Linked DNA regions of Homo sapiens: region 1 is reported to be linked to region 2. The links are microRNA targets in miRTarBase. Many come from high-throughput screens and were not tested one by one. Region 2 holds a microRNA gene; the other region holds the end of a gene's coding sequence.
Evidence for each region. The annotated mature microRNA hsa-miR-1261 reads AUGGAUAAGGCUUUGGCUU and lies in region 2 at 2,970-2,988, shown strand. An mRNA with a match to its seed (bases 2 to 7 or 8) in the 3' UTR can be bound and repressed. Matches are read on the target gene's strand: a 7mer-m8 pairs with bases 2 to 8, a 7mer-A1 pairs with bases 2 to 7 and ends in A, and an 8mer does both.

Region 1: miRTarBase lists FCAMR as a target of hsa-miR-1261. Seed matches in the 3' UTR shown: 7mer-m8 at 937-943.

Annotation. Positions count from the first base shown.
Region 1 is chr1:206,952,160-206,959,275 of GRCh38, reverse strand. It overlaps FCAMR (Fc alpha and mu receptor), which reads left to right. Exons shown (of 8, transcript NM_001170631.2): 8 at 600-1,309. The coding sequence ends at 760. Among named protein-coding and RNA genes, the nearest start is that of PIGR, 9.3 kb to the right of the region's middle.
Region 2 is chr11:90,865,051-90,872,167 of GRCh38, reverse strand. MIR1261 (microRNA 1261) reads left to right here and starts at 2,966; the gene lies at 2,966-3,047. All of the region lies in intron 6 of DISC1FP1 (DISC1 fusion partner 1), which reads right to left.

The DNA of each region.
Region 1 (7,116 bases), not on the chromosome of region 2:
TGAACTCTTGACATCAAGTGATCCTTGGCCTCCCAAATTGCTGGGATTATAGGCGTGAGCCACTCTGCCCAAACTGCCTTGGTTTTTAATCAATAAAATTAGAAATTATCTCTGTACTTACGTGTCAATGGCATCCCAGAGCACAAGGAGAAGCTCCTGGAAGATTACAAAGGCTGTGATGCCTATGTTAACCATAAGCCTCATAAGCAACCCTCACAGCAGAGAGCAGGAGTGCAGGGCCCAGACCTGGGATCAAACCTCGCATTTTCCCCCTTTGGCAAAGCCCAGCTAAAATTCTCTGAGAGCAACATGCCCAGGTTTAAGTACTCTTAAAGTGAGGGCTCTGTGATATGTACACCTAGTGAAGAAAGGGTGAGATTTTCTGGCAGCAAGTGGAGGAGGCTAAGGTTCTCAGACCCAGGCCCCGAAGTCCAAGCCCTATCATGGGCTAGGCTGGCTTAGCCTAGCCAACTAGGGCTCCATTGCTTCTGTGTCAGAAAGTTCTTGAAAACTTGCAGTGGTTGGGAGTGGTTCTTAGGAAATCAAAGTCAGTGCTGTCCTTACCCAGAACCCTCACAGTCTGCTCTGTGTCTCTGCAGCTCAGGAGGCAGAAAGGGTCACCTTAATTCAGATGACACATTTTCTGGAAGTGAACCCCCAAGCAGACCAGCTGCCCCATGTGGAAAGAAAGATGCTCCAGGATGACTCTCTTCCTGCTGGGGCCAGCCTGACTGCCCCAGAGAGAAATCCAGGACCCTGAGGGACAGAGAGATGAACTGCTCAGTTACCATGGGAGAAGGACCAAGATCAAAGGCCTTCAGGACCCCAGCCTCTTTCCATCATCCTTCCTCCACCTGTGGGAAGAGAAGCTGATGCAGCCGGTGCTCCACCCATGGAAGAAAGGCTGGCTGTCCTTGGGCCCAAGAAAGTCAAGCATTATCCACGTCCAAAGGTGACAAGATGACTCAAAGGAGACTTCAAGAACAGTGTATGAAACACTGGAAGAGGTCACCTAGGAAAAGCATGAAATTTCCATTCCTGAATGTTTGAAAATAGAAGAGGCTTCCAATCAGTGTGGAAAGTGACAAATCCCCTATCAACACTCCCAGCCCTTGCTGGGGGCTCCTTTTCTGACTACTGTTAGCACTCAGCCTCCCATTCACATGTATTATATTTAAGTGTACCAGCCTTGCCTTCTCAAGTAGATTCTAAGCTCCTTTAAGGCAGTAATTGCATTTTATCTGTCTCATGATGCCCCCAGAGAACTTCCAACTCAGTAGGACCCCAATAAATACCTGTGTCTGATTGACTTGGGGGCTCAGTGGCCTCTAGGCACCCTTCCTCTGCAAGAACTCTGGGTCCCCCTGGGCTTCTGCCCCTCCTTTTGGGAGTCCCCTAGATGACCCCACAGGCAGCTGGTTTCTCCGCTGAGATCAAAAGGGCAAACACCCATTCCTCACATCATCCCGCCCCATTTGGACCCAGGCTTATTGTGCCGTAGACCTTTTGACCCGGCCAAGATTTTCTGGGATTTTCCTACATTCATGGAGGAGCAGGGTATTTTCAGTAGATTCTTGCTTTCTTCATAAAGGCCCTCTTGTTCAGCTGCTTATAAATCCTCGATATGGAGGACTGTTGGTGAAGCTGGAAAATGGTTTTTGGGGGTGAGGTGGGAGACAAAAGAGAGGAATTTTATGTGGATTCTGCCCTGTAACTACATCACCTCATGCTTGTCAGGGAACTTTCGCTCCACCCTAGGCCCCACTGCCTTTCCAGGAATCACATCCACTATTTTCTTTTGCCAGATCCGCTGGCAAACTGTCTGGGCTCCATTGTTGGATGGAACAGCCTGAGCGGTGGAGGCAGAAAGGAAAAATAGGCACCAATATCGAGTTGAGAATTGCCAGGTAGACATTTCCAGAAGGCTTAGTCCTGCCTTCTAAGCTGTCAGCAGCACAGAAATCCTTCAGTAATACCCCCTTATATCTGGTTCTGAACACAGACACTGTACAAAGAAAATCAAGGAGATGCCGGTTTTATGGCTTATAAGAGAAACCTGTTGTTTTGGATAAGTAGGAAAATTGCACACATCTAACCACATGGAATCGCAGAATTTCAGAGCTAACAGATCTTTAGAGATTAGTCTAATATCCTCATTCTAGAAGAGAGGGACTTGAGGCCCAACAGGGTTAAGGGTACAGGTGGGGGGCGCTTGTTTAAAGTCACCCAGTTAACCCAGTTAGTTATAGCACTGTGAGGACTAGCAAAGAGAACTCGTGACCTTGGTTCAGGGCCTTTTTCACTTCACCATTGCTGAGCATTGTACCAAAGCAAAACTCACTGTCAAAAATCAAGGATACCACAGTCGTCCCTCGAGACTATTTTCCTGTTCGCTTTCTCAATGACCTGCCCCAAATAATCCTGTAACGGAGATAGGACAGACATCATGGATCCTATTCAACCAATGAGGGAGCAGGCTCTGCAAGGTGTGTACTTCAGCAAAGGCCACTCGGAGCAGCCCACCTCCACAGCTATGTTCTGGATCGCCGTGCCCCTTGCTTGGATTTATGATCTAGGTATCTGGTCAGGTCCTTTCCTGTGTAAAGCTCTAAAGGCTCACTTCTTTCTCTCTCTCTCTCTTAGGCTTGTGCATGGAAGGTTTCATGATCATTCCCAGGAATTGGTTCTCATTTGTGGCAGGGATGGGCCCAGCACCCAGACTGTTTCTAATGCTAGATTCTCAGGATGTGAAAAGGTGTTCTGAGGAAAAGGAGGTTTGGTAGATTAATGAAGTTTTGGAAATGCTGGGAAACCACAAACATTCTTCTATGCAGGATCTTTTGGAGCCTTTGCTATATGGAGGTGTATTGTGAAACACCCTGGGTTTTCACACCTCGGGATGGGGACATAATGTGTGTTTCCCAGATGTGTTGGATTATTGTGTTTGATTGAAGCAGTCCCAAGGGGCTGGAGTTCCTCACATCACTGTTTGGGGAAGCCTGATGCACTAAACCCGGGGTTGGCCAACTCTTCAGTAAAGGGCCACATGGTAAACATTTTAGGCTTTGCAGGCCATACAGTCTCTATGGCAACTACTCAGTTCTGCCGTTGCAGCACAAAAGCAGCCAGGCAATCGAGAAACAAATGACCGCAGCTGTGTTCCAACAAAACTTTATTTCCCAAAACAGGAGGGAGGCTGGATTTGGCCCTTGAGCCAGAATCTGCCAGTCCCTGGACTAAGCCATGAAATTGTACAGGACTCTTTTGTTCCCACTCGGATCTGGAGATCAGATCCTATTCTTCCTCAAGGGCTTCCCTGACCACCTTTCTCCAGGACCTCTCCTTCCTCCAAACGGCTCTAATACTTTCATTGTGGAATTCAGCAGCTAGAATGTTCTGTCTGACTACCCCATCTTGGGGGAAGAAGGGGAGGGAGGAGACAACCAGCCCAGCAAGAGTGTTGGCCACGTGGCTAGAGCCAGGAGCGTTTCTAGCAGGGAGGCCGTTATAGGGAAAGTTAAGCTCCACCAGAGGTGGAGCTGGTAAGAGTTCAAAAGGCCAGGGCAGGGCCAGATTAGAGTCCCAGGGCCAAGAGTTTGGAGGGGGCAGAGATAAGATCTGAGTAAGAACTTTCAGGGAGAGAAGCGGGGAAGCCCCAAGTGTTCACAGCTCTCCTTTATGGGCTAACTGATCCATGGAGTAGTCAGGAGGGTTGATTTAAAGGGCCAGAGGCCAAACTGGCAGAGGAGGCCACCTCCACCACTTGGTATTGTCAGTGCTGTTGTTTTTCATCTTATACCTCCGGCTAGCATGATGCCTATACCACTGAGATGAGGGGCAGGCAAACATCTATCCCTAGGCCAGAATCAGGGAAGCCTCCCTGGGGATTTCTAACTTAGGATTAGAATCTAATCGAGGATGCAGGGAGACCATTGATTTTCACAAGATCAAGCAGATTCTCAGGTTCGGGTGCATTTCTGCAGTTCACTTTACACTGTTACTTACTAACGCTGCTACTGCTTGTTAACGTGTTTCTGCACAGCAGGCACTATCCTAGGTGTTTTCACATTGTGTATCACAGTTACGGTAACATTTCTGTAAGGTAGGTGTGATCATTCCCATTTCATAGATGGGAAATCTGAGGACCAGAGAAGTTAAGTTACACTACTCAGGAAAGGGCACACTGGGACTTCATGCAAAGCACCTCACCTCCACAGCTGCATTCTCGATCTTTGTGTCCCCTGCCTTCCCCCTTGCTTGGATGTATAGTCTGAGTATCTGGTCAGGTCCCTTCCTGTGTAAAGCTCTAAAGGTTTGCTTCTTTCTTTCTTTCTCTCTCTCTCTCTCTCTCTCTCCCTCTCTCTGTCTTTCTCTCTCTCTTTTTCTTAGGCTCGTGCATGGAAGGTTTCATAATCATTTCCAGGAATTGGTTCTCTTTAGTCACCTAACTAGTTTATTACAACCCTGGCCTAATGAGGCATTAAAAAAAAAAGTTCAGAGAGCCGGAACTAGAGCTAAAAATTCAGGCACCAGCCCTGAGGTCCTTGCTGACATATGTATAAAAGGAGCTCAGATCTTTATTTGTGGGGATGTCCATCTGTCTCAGCTTACTCGGGGCAAATGCATGACTCTAAGCCAACTTTTGAGAGCTCTCTGCTAATACGTTGGAGGTTTCTTCCTCTCCTCCAATAGCCCACTGTGGTCTGAGACATAAAAAATCAGTTTAATAACAGCCTCAGTCAGGCCCTAGGGGAAGATACCTCCACAGAGAGACCCATAACGCACTGCAGCCAAGTAGACACAGGTTATTTGATTGTGCTCACCTGGTACAGATATCCCAGAGCTGAAAGCATGACTAATGTGGAATGGAGAATGGAGATTCTACTCAGAAAGAAACAAACCCTGCATTCAGGGTCCAGCACCACCAAGCTCTTCATTTTTCATACAGTGACACAGCTTGGTTTACAGGTGCTGGCCTTCCCGGGCCAGCCTGCTCCCTTCACTGTCAGCAGTATGATGAGCTGTCATCCTACTGCCTACTCTCTAAGGGGCCAGCTGAAACCCATGTGGGCAGCAGAGAAGCGGCAGCCTTAGGAGAGAACCCCATGCTGCACCTCTACAGGCATGTGGTGATCACCAGTGCCAATGCCCCTGGCCTGCAGACCACTGTTTGCCTCCTGGATGCATTGCATCAAAGACATTGATTGAAGCCAGGCACCGTGGCTCATGCCTGTAAACCCAGCACTGTGGGAGCGTGAGGCAGGAGGATCACTTGATGCCAGGCGCTTGAGACCAGCCTGGGCAACATAGTGAGACCTCATCTCTACAAACAACAACAACAAAAAGACACACATTTACTGAGTAGGATCTGAACTCTTCTATGTTCTGCCTCTGCCACCTCTGGCCTTGTTCCCACTGCTCACTTACTTGCTACCTCTATCCAGATCTACCAGTTCTGCTGTGAGCATAGAGGGTCAAACAAAGGCTACTTCTTTCCCTGAGTGGCAAACTTCTGGCTTCCTAACCTTGAGTACTTTAGAGAAGAGGAAGAAAGCTAGGACTACTGTGTCCAAAGGTGTTTTCAGAATGCTCTAATTTGTCTGAAGATACTGTGTTTCATTTCAGACAAGAGTTCAAGAAAAAGAATTCAGACTGTGGCTTCTTTAGGGCCTGGCATGGGAAGATCAGACTGATTAGCAAATGCAACTAATCTAAACATTTTATGGGGCCAGCACTTTCCTTCCCTACCTCTGCCAGTGGAGTACAGACAACTACAAATTAATTACAATATACATCACCAAAAAGAAACATACTCCCATTCTAGAGATGGGAACATTGAGGCTCAGATGAACACAGGCTGCAGGGGATTACAGGGGCTATTTTTCCAATCGCTGCCTGTCAGGCAAGCCTTGGGCCGAGAGCCAGGCTCAGACCAGGAACAAGGAAACAGCAAGTCTTCAGCAGGACCCCAGTGGCTTATGAGAGGGGCTGGGCCCAGTCACCTGACACTCCACCTATTGACTTTGGATGTCTACTCCAAAAATCTTCCTCCTTCCGCTTCTCCCTAGCCAGGGTGTGGAGGTAACAGCACATAGGACAATGGTTGGGTAACCTCAAAAAAGGTTTGCTCATATGTCCCTGCCTCTCAGAAACAGAGAATCAAAGCTCTTTGGAGTGTAGAGACTAGACCCAAAGAAGAATTGAGAGAGCTTTTGGACCATGGCTGACTTTCCATTTCCAGGGCCTTTTTCTTTCTTTTTTTTTTTTTAAATATTTTTTTTATTTATTTATTTTTGAGACAGACTCTCGCTCCCTCGTCCAGGCTGGAGTGCAGTGGCACAATCTTGGCTCACTGTAACCTCCACCTCCAGGGTTCAAGCAGTCCTCCTACCTCAGCCACCTGAGTAGCTGGGATTACAGGAGCACGCCAGCATGCGCGGTTAACTTTTGTATTTTTAGTAGAGTATTTTTCACAATGTTGGCCAGGCTGGTCTCGAACTCCTGGCCTCAAGTGATCGCCTCACTTGGCCTCCTGAAGTGCTGGGATTACAGGTGTGGGCCACCACACCCAGCCTCCAGGGCCTTTTATGTTCCACTTCACTCCCCGCTCCCCACGGCAGGCTCCTCAGGGCTGGACACAGGCAATCTCAGGGGGCTCTTACCACAGTTTCTACCTTCACTCTTTCACCAGCCAAAATGAGAAAGGGTAGCAACAACCTCCCCACTCTGGGAGCCCCAGAAGAAATGTTGTTTTCACTTTCTGACTGAGAGGCAGCTGAGCTAGGAAAACAGTGAAGAATGGGACATCAGGGCAGTGACACAGGGAGGCAGGTGGTCAAGGAGAAGGCAGGGCCTCAGTGTGTTCATAGAGGAAAGTGAAAAGATTTGAGCATTGCATGCACACGTTTGGCCAGTGAGTCACCTCTCCAACACCAACTGAAGACTAGAGCTGCTAATCTGACAGCGGCCTTCCTTCCCTCTTCACGTCCCTGCACGCTACCACCCAGCTTGCCATCCTTTGACTTCCCTGATTAATGTTGTTCTTAGAGTTGACACAATGCTGCCCATTTGTACATGCCATATGCCCTGAGCTCTTTAGGAAGGACTCTAGGAAGC
Region 2 (7,117 bases):
TGATGCTTAACTTTTTGAGCAACTTTCAGGCTGTTTTCCAAGGTGGCTGCACCATTTTACATTCTCTCTAGCTATGAAAGAAGATTCTTATTTTACCACATCTTCATTAACACTTGTTATTATCTGATATTTTATTACAGTTATCCTAGTGGGTATGAGGTGGTATCTTGCTGAACTTTTGATTTGCATTTCTCTGATGATAATGATTTTGAGCATCTTTCTATGTGCTTATTGTCCATTTGTATATTCTTTTTGAGGAAATGTCTAGCCAGGTCAATTTTTACTTAGGTTGTCTTTGTATTATTGAGTTGTAATAGTTGTTTTTGTATTCTACACAGAAGTCATATAATAGATATATGATTTGCAAATATTTTCTCTTTATTTTTCACTTTTTTAATGGTATCATTCGAAGCACAAAAACTGTTAATTTTATTGTAGTTCATTTTAGCTATTCTTTCTTTGTTGCTTATACCTTTGGTATCTCATCTAAGAAACCACCATCAAATGTGATTGTGAAAATTTTTCTCCATGCTTTCTTCTGAGATTATTTTTTGTTTTTTAGTTTTAACTCTTGCATTTAAGTCTTTGATTTATTCTGAGTCAATTATCATATATGGTGTGAGAAAGGAGTTCAAGTATTAATATTTAATTTATATTTAAAAAGTAAGTTCTGGTATATCCTTTTCCTTTGCCAGTCAAAGTCACAGGATGCATTCCAGCTATTAGACAAGGATACATATTGAAGAAGAAGTTTTAAAACATCAAAACTTTATTTTATTTATTCTTTTTACTTAGAAGTCAGTGTATTATGGAAAGGGACACATGTATTTGAAATCTATATAATCTGAATTAAAGCTGTAATTTCTATATAGCCTTTGTGATTGTAAAAAATAGAATACTTCTCTGAGCTAAAAATTTTATCTTTACAACAGAAATTATAATGAATATATTACACTGTTTTATTGAGGATTTAATGAGATACTTTCTGTCAAACAGCTAGTACAGTTCCTGGAAGTAAATGGAAACATCTTAAATATTAGTTTTTATATTCTACCTTCTTGTCTGCTGGCAGTATTTCCTATGCCACTTGCCTTAGATCTCTATTGGATTTGTTCTTCCGACATCTTTCCTGCATGCATTAATTTCACTGACTCCCTCCTCATACCCCTAACACACATAATGTGCTCAGTCTTGACAGTGTGGTTAAAATATGTGTAGAAATAACAGCAAAGACAACAAAAATGAGGAAGCAACAAACTTCTTAGAAAGGGAAGATCGAAATAAACTGCTTTGAGAATAGAAGTAGAGGCCTAAAGATATGGCTTGGAAAAAGAACTTAAGACAAAATAAAATACCAAGCTAAACTGTGCTGTTTTCATTTAATACACATGCAGGCATGCTTTGCAGATAGTGCAAGTTTATTCTAGACCACTGCGATAAAGCAAATGTCACAATAAAGTAAGTCACATATTTTTTATTTCTGGTTTTCTAGTGCATATAAAATAATTCCAATTGCAATACATCTAAAAAACAATGTACATACCTTTATTTTATTGCTAAAAATGCTAAAAACCAGCTAAGCCTTCAGAGAGTCATAGACTTTTTGCTGTAAGAGTCTTGCCTCGATATTGATGGCTGCTGACTGATCAGGGTGGTGGTTGCTGAAGGTTAGAATGGTTGTGGCAATTTCTGAAAATAGGAAAACAATTAAGTTTGTTGCATTGATTGACTCTTTCCTTCATGCATATTTCTCCAAAGCATACAATGCTATCTGGTAGAATTTCACAGTAAAACTTCTTTTGAAATTGGAGTCAATCCTTTCAAACCCTGCTGCTGCTTTTTCAACCAAGTGTATGTGATATTCTAAATATGTTGTCATTTCAACAGTGTTCATAGCATCTTTACCAGAAGTAGTTTCCATTTCAAGCAACTATGTTCTGTGTTCATTCATAAAAACAAACTCCACATCTGTTGAAGTTTTATCATGAAATTATAGATGTTCAGTTCCATCCTCAAGTTCCGCATCTAATTGTTCTCTTGCAATTTCTATTACATCTGCAATTACTTTCCCCACTGAAGTCTTCAATCGCTCAAAGGCATCCCTGAGAGTTGGAATTCACTTCACTTACACTTCCATTAATGTTGATATTTTGACCTTCTCCTTTGAATCATAAACATTCTTAATGCCATCTAGAATAATGAAGTATTTCCAGAGGGTATTCAATTTACTCTGCCCAGGTCCATCGGAGGAATTATATCAAAAATTATTTCTTGGATAATGAATTTGAAAGCTTAAATTACTCCTTGATCCTTGTGTTGCAGATTTAATGTTTTATTAGCAGGGATGAAAACGTACCTTGTGTATATCCCTATCAGAGCTTTTGGATGAGCACATGATTATCAATAAGCAGTAATCTTTTGAAAGGAATTTTTTCTAGTTTCTGGGGAACAGGCCTCAGCAGTGGGTTTAAAATGTTCAGTAAATCATTTTGTAAGCATACAAGTTACCATCTAGGTTTTGCTGTTCCATTGAGAACAGGCAGAGATAGTTTATTATGACTCTTAACGGCCCTAGGATTTTCAGAATAGTAAGGATTGGGTTCAACTTAAAGTCACCAATTGCATTATCCCCTAAAAATAGTCAGCTTGTCCTTTGGAACTTTGAAGCCAAGCACTGACTTGTCCTCTTTAGCTACAATCTTAGATGGTATCTTATTCAAATATAAGTCTGTTTTGTCTACATTGAAAATCAGTTGGAAAGTGTAGCCACCTTCATCATTTATCTTAGCTCTAGATACCTTACTACAGCTTTTCCATCAGCACTTGCTACTTCACCTTACACTTTTGTATTACAGAAAAAGCTTCTTTCCTTCAACCAAATGAACCAACCTCTGTTAGCTTCAAACTTTTCTGCTGCAGCTTCCTCACTTCTCTCAGCCTTCATAGAACTGAAGAACTAGAGACTTGCTATGGATAAGGCTTTGGCTTATGGGGATATTGTGGTTGATCTGTTCTATCCAGATGACTGAAACTTTCTCCATAGCAGCAGTGAGGCCATTTTGCTTTCTTCTCATTTGCGTGTTCACTGAAGTAACATTTTTAATTTTCTTCAAGAACTTTTTTTTTAACTTTCACAACTTGTCTATTAGGCCTCTCTTTCAGCTTACCTCAGCTTTCCACATGCCCTCTTCAGTAAGCTTTATCATTTCCAGCTTTTGATTTAAAGTGAGAGATGTGTGACTCTTCATTTCACTTGAACACTTAAAGGCCATTGAAGGGTTATTATTGGACTAATTTCAATATTGTTTTGTCTCAGGGAATAGAAAGACATGTGGAGAGGGAGAGAAATGCAGTAACAGCTGGTCTGTGGAGCAGTCAGAATACACACATTTGCCAATTAAGTTTCCCATCTCATATGGGCTAAGTTTGTAACCATTACAATAGTGACATTGATGATCATTGATTACAGATCACTGTAACAGACATAATAGTAATGAAAATGTTAGAAGTAATCACCAAAATGTGGCACAGAGAAATGAAGTGAGCACATGCTGTTGGAAAAATGGTGTCAATATACTTGCTTGATGCAGAATTGCCATGAACCTTCAATTTGTTAAACACACATACACACATACACACACAACATCTGCAGAGGGCCAAAAAGTGAAGTGCAATAAAATAAGTTATTCCTTTATTTTTTATATTAACATCTGCTTATTTAGTATTATTGTTTATCTGATTGAGGCATTTTCTTGTCCATTTATGGCATGCTTTAACTTATCCTGACAAATTCTGAAAATCATAAACAACTGTTTGGTATCAGAGAGATACATATTTTACTTGGAATAATAAAATTACTTGCCGCATGTGTATAATTTGAGAATTATTCTCTTAACTGTGAAAGATATGTATAAAGTAGAGCAAATCCAAGGCTATCTTTTTTAAGCTCTCAAAAAGTTAAAAAAAAAAGCACCAGGCAGTAAGTGTTTTGAGAACAGTAACGTACATTTGTCCTGCAAAAGACCAATTCATCTGCTTTAATAGAAATCCATTTAAAAAAAAGAGATCATTAAGTTGGAAAGTTAATATCCAATATATTTTTTGGCAATATACAAACTTATAATCATGATTTAGGTATCTAATTTTGACACTTGGACTTAAAAATTATAAATCGTATAAACTTCTAGTTGTTCTAGAAAACTTGCTTTGTTCTTATTTATAGAAATATAAAAATTGGCACACAGCAAAAATATAATATGAACATTTCAGTCAGAAAATAAAAAAGGTTTTAATTATCACATGTCTCCTGTCAAAAACACCACAGATGTTCATCTAAAAATGCATATTTTTAAATTAGAATTTTCTACAAATAAAAGTGATTCATCTTTTACACCAGGTCTTAGACAAATTGTGTCACTTCTTACATGATAATAAGCCACCATTTTAATTAGTAGTTGTCATTCACTCCAGCACACCAATCTCTAGAAGAGAGCAAGTAACATTTTGTACAGCTGCTCTCATGCTTTGCCTGTCATCTTTGTCCTGACTTTGAATTCCTCTCCCCAACATTTTCCTCTCCTTTACATAATCCCCCTCCTCATTTTCCTTACTCCCACTGAGCTGTCAAGAGTCAAAATACTGTGATATGAAATCATTGCCTCTATGACTCTAAAAAAGGTGAGCTTGCACTAGATTTTGATCAAAGGGAATCATTTATAAGATAGATGCAGCAAAAAACCTTGGGGAGTGTTTCCCCCCCACTACCCAAAGCATCAGTATTACGTGAAATAGAAAAGACAAAGAAACATATTTCTAAACACTTTTTTGCTCTTAATGACATGATTGATGTTCACTCTATATAATGTTTATTAGTTATTTTCACCTTGTTATTCAGTACCATCTCAGAAAGATGTCTCCTATGAACATATAACTCCAGTAAAAATGGGGAGAATGAAGGCTGTAAGAATTACAGCTCTCAGTTTTGTAAGCAAGAATGAATGGAGAATGAAAAAAAATCTATAACTATTTTGCAGAGGGAAGAAGAGCTTTGGAGGAGACTCTTAAGGTGCCATCATCAGGTGATAACAAAAATTGGGAAGATTTCTTGACTGTTTGCAATTCTCCTTGCCATCATTCTTACAAGGATGTATTTATGTTGTGCCACATCACATTGCAATCTTTGTCTCTACAGTAAAACCTAATTTTGCTAGTGTTTTGGTGAGAGAAGCAGGCCACAGTGCTTTAAGGGAGGCTGTTTGGTTACTGAATCCCACATAGTAGTCTTTGCTGGGATCTCTCAAGTGAGAACTTCCACAGTAAGGTTATAGCCCAATCAAGAGGTGATCCTACCTGTCTTCATGTTGGGTATCAAACATTAGAATTCTTACATCTCCTTTTCTTGGCAAAGATATAACAACCAGAGAAAGTGACACTACAAATCCATTTCTGAGAAAGTATGATAATAAGAATGAGTAATGGAAACATGGGCCATTTTTACCTCTGGTTTTGGGGTAACAGTCCTGATGCCTTCTTTAGATACAGAAGATGACATTTTAAAATTGTAAAGTGAAATAATGAACGTAATTTACATAAATGTACTCTGCACCCAGATTTAAAAATGATTATTTATATTCTGGTTTTGAAAATGTAGCCATTTCCTCAGTCTCTGGGCTTGTGTACAGGAAACGATATTCATTTATAATTTATTCATTTAATTTTTAGCTTTATAAAAGTGCACCCATTGCCATGGTCTCTGAGTGAATATAAAATACTAAACATATAACAACAAAGACAAAGTTAAGCAATAAAAGTAAATTGCAGAAATGTTATGGCTTTCAGATTGTGAAGTCAAGAGCCAAGATATTTTCAGATTAATAATATAAAGGCAATAAAATAAATTCCTACTTAGATGTTCACGTACACACTCATATATATATATATATATATATATATATATAGAGAGAGAGAGAGAGAGAGAGAGAGAGAGAGAGAGAGAGAGAATCTATGATGAAAGCAAAGAAAGGAGGTGGAGGTAAGTGACAGAAGACAAGATGATTAGTAGAATGAGGAGAGGAAAGTTAGAAGTTACAACATGTAGAATTGTCAGTTATCTAGGCTCTCTAAATAGGCCCTGTGGCTTTGTTTGTTAGTGTCAGTTTGTATGTGTTTATGCATAAGGAGGACCATTTTAAGAGGACTATTGGATATGTGCTGGGAAAAATAAAATCTGATTAAGGTGGGATGTTGACCATGGGGACAGAATTGGAGTGTAGGCTTTTTTCCAGAGACAACACAATACCAAAAGTCAGGGGTTGGGTGGGGGTTGGTGGGGACATCCAGGGTCAATTTGTAGGAAAATTCCAGTATTGGAGCATAGGACAAGGCAAGTAAATTGCAGAAAGTCCAATGACTCCAAATGAGAACAAAACAGAGTGAGGTACTATATTTTCTCACCAGTGTTTTCCCAAAAGCTAGCATATTCTCAATAATTATTTGTTAAATGAAAATGGAGGAACTGTGTAGGTTTGTAGCTTTTCATTATATACTGGAAAGTTCCTGATTTATAAAATATTCAAATAGTGTTAAAGTGCTAGGGACAAAGTATGCAAAGGCAAAGGTTTGAAAAAGTCATAGTTGAAAAAGTTAATTGGATTTTTAAAAACTTACTTATTTTTTATATTTTAAGTATGAGAGTGAAAGATGTATATGCATAAAGAAATGTCCCGAAAAATACAAAGTAGTAAATAGGATATATAGAGAGACTGTCCTCATAAGGAACATGGTGTGTGTGTGCACGCACGCGTGTATGTGTGTGCACGTGCATGTGTGTGTGTGTGTGTGTGTTTCTGTTTCCTTAAAGGAATGTGTTTCCTTAAAGTTTTACCCTTGACTAGTGTTGGTTCTGATGATATGTGTTATTTCTTTTCACATATTGCATTGTCTGCAAAGCCTTACATTTTGCTGATGAAAGTAGAGGGAGTTGGCGGTAGCATAGACACTGCAAAAAATGCCCTCAAAGCTCAGTAATTATTCTGAGGCAGATACAAGTGCCTGGCCTGAGAATAAGATCCAACTATAATAATGAGAATTAAGGCAAAGATGCCACAGGACAAAGACC